Linked DNA regions of Homo sapiens: all the other regions are linked to region 3. Evidence: fine-mapped expression QTL. A gene starts in region 3. Each other region holds a variant in brackets. All regions are shown on one strand. Distances are from middle to middle. Region 1 overlaps SLC2A12 (solute carrier family 2 member 12). Region 2 overlaps SLC2A12 (solute carrier family 2 member 12). Region 3 holds the start of SLC2A12 (solute carrier family 2 member 12).

Evidence for each region.
Region 1: its variant is fine-mapped to the expression of SLC2A12 in putamen (GTEx, PIP 0.95).
Region 2: its variant is fine-mapped to the expression of SLC2A12 in esophagus muscle (GTEx, PIP above 0.99). The same link has a PIP of 0.9 or more in aorta.

The regions. Positions count from the first base shown.
Region 1 is chr6:133,990,615-133,994,843 of GRCh38, forward strand. SLC2A12 (solute carrier family 2 member 12) reads right to left here. Exons shown (of 5, transcript NM_145176.3): 5 at 1-694. The coding sequence ends at 541. Among named protein-coding and RNA genes, the nearest start is that of TBPL1, 40 kb to the left of the region's middle. The variant T/C (reference allele first, on the strand shown) is at 2,305.
Region 2 is chr6:134,018,096-134,022,340 of GRCh38, forward strand. The region is part of intron 2 of SLC2A12 (solute carrier family 2 member 12); the gene reads right to left. Among named protein-coding and RNA genes, the nearest start is that of SLC2A12, 32 kb to the right of the region's middle. The variant G/A (reference allele first, on the strand shown) is at 2,130.
Region 3 is chr6:134,050,532-134,054,776 of GRCh38, forward strand. SLC2A12 (solute carrier family 2 member 12) reads right to left here and starts at 2,093. Exons shown (of 5, transcript NM_145176.3): 1 at 1,847-2,093. The coding sequence starts at 1,949.

The DNA.
Region 1 (4,229 bases), 60 kb before region 3:
GAATTACCACTAAAATCCTAGCCAGGACCCTCTCCTAATCTAGATAGAATATATGGGCAGTTGTCCACACTGTGTGTTCTGGTTCTTTTTTGCGTAAGATCCAGTGCAAGTAGTGTCTTGGTAGGCAGAAACTGTACCCTCATGTCCAGACCACTTGTGTGTCTGCATAATAAAGCTGCGACTGGCCTCCATACATACATAGCTTAAGGCGGAGGTTGATGTCTTCACTAGGACATAGTCTATTCAAAGGCTGCTCTGTGAAGAAGGTAGAAAGTATTAAACCAGCCAGTAACTTTTTTTTTTTAACCTGATATCCTGCTCAGAAAAAGAGATCACTTAGGACCTTGTACCTCATCTACCTTTTGAGGTTCCTTCTGGGGAGGAGGGGGATTAAAGGCTGTCTTTATCATTTCAGAGTGTCTCTTCAAAACCAGTTCCATGACACTGAAAAGAGAGCACAGGAGTCGCAACTATGCATTGGTCCAAAGACACCCTCCTAAGTGTTCTGGCACTATCCACGTTCAGAAGGTGTTGAGGCCATTAGGTCTCTGGAGAAAGCTGCCTGGATTGGCCCCTACCACACAGCTTGTTACACTCCAAGAGCTGCTCCTGGGGTTTTCTTTTTTGAGGCTGTTTTGGCACTAATTCTTCTTGGTGATGACTCATAAAACAAATGTTGTTTTTCACATAGTTCCTGAAAGAGAAAGAGGCACTAATGAAAATGTCATTCTTAGTTTACATGAAAAAAATGTGTAGGCTATTATTTTTTAAACCACCCTGGGGCTTTAATGTTTTAGCTATGCAAAAATAAATACACATTTTTATTAGGAATCCTGCTGCATCATGAAATTCAGTATGCCACAGACTTTGGTCAATCTCATGCAAGGGGTAACGGTGTCTTCTCAGAATACAATCCCAGCAGTCAGCTCTGTGGGGAAGGATTCCAAGGATAGTATTACATACAGAGAACCAGTGGAGGTTTCATCCCAGACCTTATTTTTTTCCATTTCTCAAACTCCAGCAATGTGCCTATATTTATATCTCTTCTATCTTCTACGTTATCCCTTACTCCTGCATTAACAAATTTTTCTACAGGATTCTTCCCATCAGCATAAAAAGATGCTATTGTATTTTACCTTTACTAAAAATGAAGAGCTGCCTTTGAACCTCCCTTTTCAAATACCTTTTTCTGTAATTTAACCAATGATTTGAGTGGCCACAATATGTAGGTAGTATGGGTTGAGTAGATAAAGACTTCTGTTTTCAAGGAGCTTACTTAGATTTTAGAGGGGAGACGAGCTTATAACTTGAAGTAGTAAAAGTGCAAATGAGAAATAAACGGGGAAGGAGAAAAAAGGGTTTAGTTGGGTGGGAGAGGACAGACTGTATTATACAGGTGGCATCTCTCTAAAGCAGTGACAATGATCAGAAAATGGAATGAAGTTAGGGAGGGAACTCCTGCAGAGAATCCCAGAGACCTGAGAAGTTGGGGCAGGGAAACGGTTGGTATCTGGAGGGAAATCTGAGGAAGGTATTTTTTCAGGATGGGAAATACTGCAGCTTTGTGCGTGTGTGCGTGATGATAATCCCATAGGAGGGGGAAATTGATGCAGTCAGTGTACAAATGGAAGCATTGGCCTTTGCAACAAGGCAGTGTGTGTGGGCATAGATGTAGGTAGGTTAGAAGATCTTGTGGCAGGAGGACAAGGTGGTCTCAATTTATTTTCTCAGTGAACTAAAAAGCAAAATAATTAGAGTGAAGAAGTGGGAGGGGGTCCTGGAGGCTTGGGAAAAGTATTGGTGTGAAGTAATCATCTTCGAAAGTAGGAACGTCAACTCACCAGGGAAATGTGGTATATTGCAGGGTATTCCTCAAGATCTACTTGAGATGTATGTTCATAAGGTGAAAACAAGGCTTATCAGCATAGTTGTGTGTTTGATTCAGCCAGGTTTAGCTCCTTGAATGCAGGGTTAAAATAAACTAAGAGTTGACTTGGTCAGAGTTAAGGTTTGCCTGAGTGATGGAGGGAGAGAGAAGAGAGTAAAGGGAGAAGGGGAAATGCGAAGAAGTGGCCTTGGTGGGCCATGGAAAGTAGGAAGCAGGGTAAGGAAGGAAGGGAGAGCATGGGCCTCCAGGTCGTCGTGGGGCTGAAGACTTGTTGAAGTGCCAGTACTTGAGGAAGTGGGCTGGAGAGATGAGTGGTTAGAGGGTGAGTGGAATGCTTGTGAATGAAGCAGTGATTGGAAATGAGTCTAGGGCATGACCATCCTGCTTTTCTGTTCCCCTTCACAGCAAAATTGATG[T/C]AAGGAGTGGACTGTTGCTTCTTCACTTCACTTCCATTTTGTCCTCCAACCACATCAGTCAGCTTCTGTCCTCTCATTCCGCTGAGCCTGTGCTTACATCTGTCTTTGTGCTTGGCCTCTCCAGTCCCACCTTCCTACAACACTTCTGGCTTTCCTCCAGCCTCACTGTTGGCTTCTTTTCAGTCCCTTTTAACACTCTCTTCTTTGCTCGGTCTCTAAGTTTGGCACAAAACTGGGCCTAGTCCCTTCTCTCTCTGTTCTCTGACCAGATAAGCTTATCTGGCTTCAGGACTTAAATACCACTTATAAGCTGATGGCCACCCACATTTGACTCTAACCCCTAGAGTCTCCAAATTTCAGACTTACGTATCCAACTGCCTACTACTAATGTGTCTATTTGATGTCTAATGGACATCTCACAATATCTCCAAATCCGAGCTCTATTCTGTCCTGAGCCCTGAAACCTAGTCCTCTCTCAGGCTTCTGCATCTCACCATCTGTCCAGTTTCTCAGCTAAAACTTGCAGTGTCATCCTGACTACTTCATTACCTTATTCTTGTATCCATTTCATTCATGTTTTTTCATCTATTCAATGCCGAGCTTCGATTATATGCCAAGGAATTGTTCCAAGTGTTGGGAAACAACAGTGAACAAAATTCCCTGGCTTCATGGAATTTAAATATAGCAGGAAGAGATAGACAGTAGACCAAGTAAAATGTAGTGTTTCTGCTTTGGTTAAAACTGAAGGATTGGAAAGTGGGTGCAGAGTTGGCTACACAATTGGGATTTGAAATAGAGGGACAGGAAAAGTCTGTTGGAGGTGAAGCAGCAAGACAGGTGGATATCTAGGATAAGAGAATTCGAGGCAGAGAAAACAAGTGCCACGATCTGGAGCCTTGAGCATGCTTGATGTGTCTGGGATGCAGCCTCTGGCCTGTGTGGCTGTGAGAGAAGAAGGGGAGATTAGCAGGCTGTGCAGGGCTGGAAGGGCATTGGAAGGCTTCTGCTCTTGCTGGAGAGCCACTGGAGGATTGGAGCAAAAGAATACCTTGATTGCATTTTAAGGGGTCATTCTGGCCACTGTGTAGAGAACTGATGGGAGGGGACAAAGGCAGAAATGGGGACCAGTAAGTGGGTATTGCAGTAATTCAGGATGGAGATCATGGTGACTCAGACCAGGGCAGCCGTGAAGGTGTTCAGGCTCTGGATATATTTTGAAGTAAGAGCCAACACAACTTCCTGATAGACTGAATGTGGAGTATGTGAGAAAGAGGAAAGACTCCAAAGTTTGTGGCCAAAGTAGTCGGATAACATTGACATCAACTGAGGTGGGTAAGGCAGTGAGTAGAATAGGTTTGAGAACATCACAGGTTCAATTTAGGGCATGTGAGGTATTAGGTATCTGTTAGACATTTGGAAAGACATGTAGAGTAAGCAGTTGAATAAACAAGCCTTGAATTCTAGAGAGATAGCTAGAGACATAAATTTCAGACCCTGGCATATCAATGAGATAAAAACTGTAAAACTGGCTGGACGCGGTGGCTCACGCCTGTAATCCCAGCACTTTAGGAGGCCGAGGTGGGTGGATCACGAGGTCAGGAGATCGAGACCATCCTGGCTAACATGGTGAAACCCCGTCTCTACTAAAAATACAAAAAAATTAGCCAGGCGTGGTGGCGGGCACCTGTAGTCCCAGCTACTCGGGAGGCTGAGGCAGGAGAATGGCGTGAACCTGGGAGGCAGAGCTTGCATTGAGCCGAGATGGCACTCCAACCTGGGCGACAGAGCGAGACTCCATCTCAAACAAACAAACAAAAAAGAAACTAACATTGACTGAGATCAACTGGCTGGTGAGGGTGATAGAGAAGTGGTCAGGGGACTAAGCCCCAGGGCACACCAACTTTAAGAGAGGAAGCAGAGGAATA
Region 2 (4,245 bases), 32 kb before region 3:
GTAAATCAATAAAGGGCTTTAAGCACATCCTATGTGTCCCAGAGTGACTTAAGCAAAATGCCTGTTGAAGTCAGTGCTGGCATTATCAGAACTGTTCACCTCATGTCTAGACCACAGCCAGACATTTAATAACACTAATGACTAAGTGTACTAAGTCCATGCCACAAACCATGCACTGAACTAGGGGCACTTTATACAGATTCCTTCATTTAACTCGACAGGCCATCAAGTGGATACAATTGCCCTGTTTTCTAGATAAAACTGAAAGCTAGAGAGATCAATGGACTTGCCCTAAGTCCTGCATGGTGGTGCTGGATTCAAGGCCAGGCAGTCCAATACCAAAGCCTGGTCCACATTCAAACACAATGGCTTTCTTGCAGCTCTCCTCACCCTTCAAGCTCATGTCCTCAAAGCCATCTGACCTGCCATTAGCCCTGCTTCAAGACCCCCTCCTCCAAGATTGTCACACTGCCTTCTTCATACAAACGTTGGCCCAAATGTTACCACCTCAGAAATGTCTTCTGTCACTATCATATCGGAAATAACCCTCCTCCAAGCATGCCCTTTCACTTACCCTCTTTTATTTTTCTTTATCACTCTTACCTCCACCTAAATTTTAACACTTCTGTCTCCTGAAACTGTATCATAGGTGTGTTCATTTTTTTTTTCTTTTCGTCTGTCCCTATCACTGGTTCGTGAAAATAAGATGTGGATCTCCAGCACCTGGTACTGTGCCTGCCATGTTGTGGGTGAGCAAGACACATGTGCTGGATGTGTGAGTGAATCAATGAATCCCTACCACTTCTCTATCTTCTCCTCTTCCTCACTCCAAGATGTTTTCTGGCTGGAATTTCTGCCCATTTGAGTCCTCAGAGTTGGTAGAAGAGATCAGGGGAGGTTATTTGGTGTCATCTGTCACTTGAATATGTGAATACAAAGGTAGCTGAAGGATGACAGTCGCAGCTTTATCACCTAACTTCGTATGTGACCTTGGGAAACATGCCTTCCATCTGCTCAAAGTGAAAACTTATTCATCATGAGATGAAAGAAGAGGTTAATTAATTAATTTATGGGCATATTAATTTTTGGATAAAAAGCCCTAATAATTATTATAAAAAAAACAGTCACATATATTTTCCGGAGTTTCAGTGGCTATTTTAAGGAGGGCTGGGTTTCTACACAAGTGTCACCTCAGATGAACTCATGAAATAATAACATTATGCCTTGGGTTTTGGCTCATCTTGACTTTACTTGTGAAGCATGAATATAAAAATCTTCACGTTGTTCTGTGTCTTCACAATGTCAAGAATCTGTGATTCTACGTTGTGAAAGCTTGAACCATGTTAGAAAAATTCTGTTATTAAAGGGAGCTGAAGTGATGATCAAGAGCACCCCAGAAACAGTGGGGAGTCGAGGTAAGATTTTGAACATATTTGAAGTGAAAGATAAGTTATGGACAACAGAGTGTTTAATAAGTATATATCCTGATTTTGTTTGACATACGGGTTTTAATATTAGCTACAGAAAAATGGAAGGGAGGGGCTCTTAGCCTCTCTGGGGCCATGAACCTCTTCGGTAGGCTGGTGAAGCCTATGGACCCCTTCTTAGAATAATATTTTAAATGCATTCTAGAAGTACATAAGATGTTGGGCGCAATGGCTCATGCCTATAATTCCAGCACTTTGGGAGGCCAAGGCAGGTGGATCACTTGAGGTCAGGTGTTCAAGACCAGCCTGGCCAATATGGTAAAACCCCGTCTCTACTAAAACTACAAAAATTAACCAGGCCTGGTGGTAGTGCACAACTGTAATCCCAGCTACTCAGGAGGCTGAGGCAGGAGAATCGCTTGGACTCAGGAGGCGGAGATTGCAGTGAGCCGAGATCGAGCCACTGCACTCCAGCCTGGGCAACAGAGTGAGATTCCATCTCAAAAAAAAAAAAAAAAAAGTATGTAAGATTACATGAGTACCCCTCCTGGATTCTAAATTCTGGGGCAACCCAATTATTTTACAGTTAGGGGAACAGGGGACCAGAAAGTAAAATGACGTGGGGCATCCACTTTAACCTAAGAATAGAAACACTTTCCTGGCAGAAGAAAATCATGCTGTGATCTAACACAATTAAGGAAT[G/A]TTGTTCTAAGCCAATCCATATTTAAGAAGGTCTAATAAGGATGGTTTAATCTTGCTTTCAATGTTACTTTAGAACAGCAAGTACTTTTCCTTCATACCTCTATTTACACAAAGGATTTATTTGTATTACAAGCAATAAACTCTCTAAATACCTGAGCACTAATCACATCAGCTTAATAAGTTTGGTAATGCATTCAAGATCTGGTATGAAAAGCTTGTTCCTAATAAAAATCTTCTTTAAACTCCAACTAGTTTATATAGTTTATACCAATGCTCTAGAATACAATTGGGGATTGAAATGAAATTACTACAGGATATTTTCTTTAGAAAAGAAAAAGAAACTAAAATGTGAATATGGATGTAAAGGATTGACTCTTAGCAAGAAAAAAAATGGAGAATTATTTGGGTCTCTTTTAAAAACACGAGGAGAATCCATAGCCTCAAGATAAGAATGTGAAATGACTGTTCTCTTTAGATGTGATTTGGATTCCTGCCTCTGACAGCATGACTCCAAGCCTCACGTGTGATTACCCAGGCCAGTCCTTGCACCTGCAGTTGTAAATTGGACAGTCCATGAGATGTAAGAAGTATTTCCTTTTCCTAGATCCAAACTTCCTTCAACCCTGAGATTCTCCAACTCGTTGGCATTGCTTCTGGTCTAAGCAGTTCTCCGAAGCCCCTCTTCTCCATGTTGTAGCAAAAAGCAGAGGATCCAAAAAGCATCCAGAACAACTTTTAGATATTGTGTCCAAAATTCTCGAATAACTATGTATGCCTTAACAAAGAAATGCCTAAATATCTCCCGCTAATTGTTTCTTAACACTACTAAATCTCCTGCATCTTTTCTTACAGCCAAAATCAGAAAGATATTTTTTAAAAATCATGCCCAAGTGATGGATTGTTCTGCAAAAAGCCTCGTGATGGTGTCTGGCAGGAACAGGAGTTTTTTTGGCAGCCTAGTATTTCTAGCTTACTTAGTTCCTAGCCTGCCCACTAGCCAGATCTTTACACAAGTAAAGAAGCCCAATTTGACATTTTTCCTATGTCTGCATCGTATTTTTAAGTCCTTTTCCTTCTTCCTGCTTAAAAACACAAAGGTAAATAAACCAGCATGATTTTTAAACAGACTCATGCTGTGCTCACTTACAGGGACAGAAAGAAAAAATATGAGATGTTTCTTCCTTCAAAATGCTTACAGTCTATAACTACATTCTGGTTAATAAACCAAAATAAACATACAGAAGTAATACCCTATTGCTAAGGACTAAGATGTGTTCTCACATTGTAACTTACATTATATCATACTCTCATACTTTACAGCATCTAAAGCACTCTCATATACATTAGATCATCTGATGTGCACCTGTACTCTAGGAGATAGGACAGATATTACTATGCCCATTACATAGATTAGAAATAGCTCAGAGAAGAAAAATCACGTAAAGGTCACACCACCAGTAAGTAGAAGAGCTGGGATTAGAACAGAGGTTTTCTGATTTTAAATTTATACGTTTGGTAGCCCAGAACTGAATTACTCTAGAAACACACTAGTAGTTCATACAAATAAAGACCTCTAAAAAATGGAGTGGATTCAAAGAGGAGATAAAGCTTTCATTTAACTTCAAAAAGAGGAAGGATCTGGATAGAGCAGAGGCGGAAGGAAGGGGCCACAACAAGTGCTTTGTGTGTATTGACTTGGGTGTGGAGCAGTGGGGAATAAACCCACACTGATAAAGTATTGCCTCATTGCACAACCCCAGGGAGCATCATTCACTTTGTCCGTTATGTGGAGTCTATGGTGGCCCTGGAGCACAAGACTTAAGACTACAAGTAAATCGTGGCCCTATGGTCCTGCAGACACCCTGATAGAGCTGGGTGAGATAATGGAGGGTCTTGAAAAACCAGAGGTTTTGCCTCAAACATAGGTGATATAGAAGCAGAAAGAACATGGATTAGCTTTCAGGTACCTAGGGTTCTATTCCCAAATCTGTGTGCCCTCAATCTCCCAGAATTTCTTTTACTTGTTTTCTATTGAATGGCTCATGCCTGTAATCCCAGCACTTTGGGAGGCTGAGGTGGGTAGATCACTTGAGGTCAGGAGTTCAAGACCAGCCTG
Region 3 (4,245 bases):
AATTGTGAATTTGTACAATATAAGCTATTAAGAGCACATTGTACCTTCAAAGCCATATCAAAATAAACAGTCCATTTTTAATGGTTACTACAAAGGCTCTTCCTAGGCAGTTTCTTTTCATCTTCTTTGTGACATTATCACTGACTGTATTTAGTGAGCCCTTTTGTTAACATCACCACCTCAGCTTGCTCTGCAGTCTAGACTGCAGCTCATGTTCCCAGGAATTTGGAGAAAAGAACTTTGCAACTCTTTCCCTTTATCTCCAAATATAAGTTTCCCTTGCCTGCTCTTAGGGAACTTGTGGGCCAATGAGTAGCAAGCGCTTAGGGAAAAGGGTACTTCTGCATAGGAGAGGACAGGCCATATTGAAAGATGACCCCAGATATTCTTTTATTATTATTATTATTATTATGTTAGACAGAGTTTCACTCTGTCACCCAGGCTGGAGTGCAGTGTCATGATCTCAGCTCACTGTAACCTCCAAGTGATTCTTGTACCTCAGCCTCCTGAGTAGCTGAGATTACAGGCATGTGCCACTATGCTCAGCTAATTTTTTTATTTTTCTGTATTTTTAGTAGAGATAGGGTTTCCGCTCTGTTGGCCAGGCTTGTCTTGAACTCCTGGCCTCAAGTGATCTGCCCACCTTGGCCTCCCAAAGTGCTGAGATTACAGGCATGAGCCACCACGCCCGGCCTCATTCTTGACGAGAAGTGTGAAAGCAAGAGAAGAGATCAGGACATGGAAGATGGAGGGCTTCTCCACTCCTGAAGAGGGCCGCTTCATGCCTCGATGTTAGGGGTCACAGGTTCGATTCCCCAAGATCAGACAAACCCACAAGGCAAACGTCAGTATTAGGACCATTCCCAAGAGAAAGGCAGATGTCTTTTGTATCATTTAGTGTATTGGATTTTGCATGAAATTTCTATATGCTGCTTGGGAATGTAATATCTGATTAAGAATACACAGCTGAGGAAAGTAGTAGGAAAGAGAAGATTTTTTGTGTTTGTTGTCATTTCATATTACAATTACTTTCTATTCCTTGCAGCACAAACTAAATGAGCAGGAAGAGGCAGCAAAAAGCGTACAATGTATTTGTGGGAATTGTAAATGTGGAAGTGAAGACCAGCCTCTGATTTATCAAAGATCATTAAATGAATTAAAACTTTTCCAAATTTCACCTTCAGAAGGTCATCATAGCAAACAAACCTCAGTTTGCAAGGCCAGTTTTAAAGAAGGCAGAACCCAGCAAAGCAAGCGTTTCAGGCTCTGAATAACGCTCAAATTCATCACAAACGTGCTGGGAATTTAAAAAGGAAGTTTGTGTTCTCATTGATTACATAACTAATAATTTTATGAAGCCTGTTTAAAATACTGATTTTTAAAACAGTGGTTATAATGTCAACTGGTTACACAGTGTCCATTTGTGACAATAAATGAAAAAGTGTAAGCAAGCGTGTGCTTGTGTGTGTTTACAAATGAGACTATCTTTGCCAGTGGACCGTTCCAATATGAAAAACATCCATACATTGTATTATGTAAACACAATCAAGGGGACCCATCATACCAGTGGTGGATGTGTAACCTGTATTTTCTTGGCACATAAGGTTCCACCAAGACTTCGATCTTCACAACATTACAGCTCCGAGCTGTCCCACGTCCCACCAGACCCTGTCCCCTTCTCTCCACTCATCCAGCGCGCCCACATGCGCGCGCGCGCATACACACACACACACACACACACACACACACACACACACACACACACGGGACTCAAGAGACAGTACACTCGGGAGATGAGTACAGCTTGCTTCTCTGCGGTCACCCGAGCACTGCAGGCTCACTTTACCTCTCGCCCAGGGAGGATGCCGGCTGCCGCTGCCCTCCGTCTCCACGGCTGTCCCCTTCTGGTTCAGCAGACTGGGGCCCTCGGTGTTTTCAACAGGTACCATGGTCACGTAGAAGTTACAGCCGCTTCCCCGCCACCAAACCGCCCCGACCACCCCCGCTCCCAGGAGTGGTCACTTTCCCCATAATAGCATGCTAAAGAAGAGTGTGGGGAAAAACTTCGGGCAAAGCTAATGTGATTTGTGACCAACTTTGTTTCTATTTCCGAAGGCTTTGCCCTTTTCGGTGACACAGGCTGTTGCTATTCCAAGCAGCCTATCACAGGCAGGGGGAGGGCCGTGAGTCAGAGGATTGTTTTTGCCTTTAGATGCAGAGTTGGAAGCAAGGGGTTAAAAGAAAGGGAACTCAGACGGAGTGTTTGGCCATTAGCTAAGGGTAGCTCTTGTATTCTAGCACCTTTGAAAAGAGGCAGAGAAAGGAAACATGCAGATTTAAATGCAAGCTGAGAGTGGGGATAGAATACTCACAGATGGTATCAGTTAATCTTGCAGAAAGAGGAACAATTTATGCAAAGACATACCAGAAGGAAAAGTGTGTCAATTTTTCAGCAAGACTGTTATTCCAAAAGTCATGGTATTTACCAGCTTACACAAAGCATAAAATACCTTTATTGTTTCAACCTGATTTTGGTCTAGGTAAAGGCCTATATCTTTCTCTCCAAGGCCTTTCAGATAAATCACAGCCTGAGACCAAAAATACACAAACTCAGAATGCACAGATTCTTTAGACTTTTTATATGCTGAGGTTATAGCAAAGTAATCCATTTCTTAATGCAGAATTGTCTTTAAGAGACAAATTAACACTGAATCCTCTGTTAGGTTTCATGTTTGCGTAGGTAGGAGGAGGATACTCCTCACTCAGAGAGGCCAGACTAAGTGGCCCATTGTGTGCGTGTGGTGGACATGTAATCTCAAACAAAATCAGGTCATGAGAGAGGATCTTTTTCTGATTTGTGAACATATTTATAAAAAAGTCTTACAGGGTTATGACATTTTACCTTCAGTTATTCATTCAACAAATCATGTTTATTAAAAAAAAAAGCCTTATAGAGGAAATTGAGATCATCTTAAAAATCATTTGGAATAAAAACTAACATGTGTGGAGCACTTATGTGCCAGAAATTGTGCTAAGCGCAATAACGCAGATGATGACTTTGAGGCAGGTACCAACATTATAGAAGAGGAAATGGAGGTTGGGTAACTTGGCTACAGTCTCACAGCTAATCAGTGGTAGAGCTGAGATTATGAATCCAGGAGGTCTAAAGCTGTAACTCTCCTATATTCTAACTTCCCAGCCTTGTCCTTCTCTAATTTTCTTGGCTTCCTATGGTTTCAGACCTACTCGACTTTAAGAAGATGCCGTGAAATATGGCTTTTAGTCATAGGCATTTCTCTGGACAGAAAAACAAATTTGTGCTTGTATAAGCAGAAGCTAAATTTTTGTTACTTCTTTTCAACATTTTAACTGAATCACTTCAAAGTTCTAAATTCACTTATTTGTACATTTCCTTTGCTTGTCATTAAATAATTCTATATTTTTCTTATCTTTCAGGGAAACAGGTAGCAAATGGAAACAAACCTATAATAATTCAACTAGTCTTTATTATGTACCCGTTGTATGTCTGCTGATAGTGCTAGAAAATGGAAGTCCTCCAGGCATAATCCAGGCCCCTTATGATTAAGAGGGTGAGAAGTTCAGAATCCCACACATCAGTGTCCCCACTAAAGAATGTGTAACGCAACCATGGTTTGAAACAACTCATTTTATTTGTTCCCAGGGTGCATTATAATTATATAGGAGTCCCAGTTTCTATCTGTGAGACACATATGTTTCCCATAAGTTCTCTATATTCTCTTGGCTTCTAACTTCTTTCTGCTCAGAACCAATGACCTCATTAGGGGGAAAATGTTCTTGCAATGGGTTAGTTGTATCATTGCTTTGTTTCGTGATCCCACAACCTGTGTTTCTAGCAGCTTCTTGGCCCCATGGGAGTGTTAGAGTGTTTGCTATAGTGCTTGACTAGACAGAAGACAAAACTAATTCCAGAATACTTTACTATGGTTAAAAGCAGTTCAACAGTTCTCACTCTGTTTTGTGTAGCCAAACCATACAGGAGATCCACAGGCATAGTAAGCCAACCAGGAGTCAAAAAGAATGCTCAGCAATGCAACTGACAACATCACCTCCTGGTGCTCCTAATTCTGTTCTTTATTCTGCTGGTGACCTGACCGGGGCCACTGGCTATCTCAAGCTCTGTTTGTACTTACCTCAATCTCTTAACTCAGAGAAAAGTTTAGGGGAGAAAATTTTTTTCACCCAGACTAGAGGGGGGAAACTCTG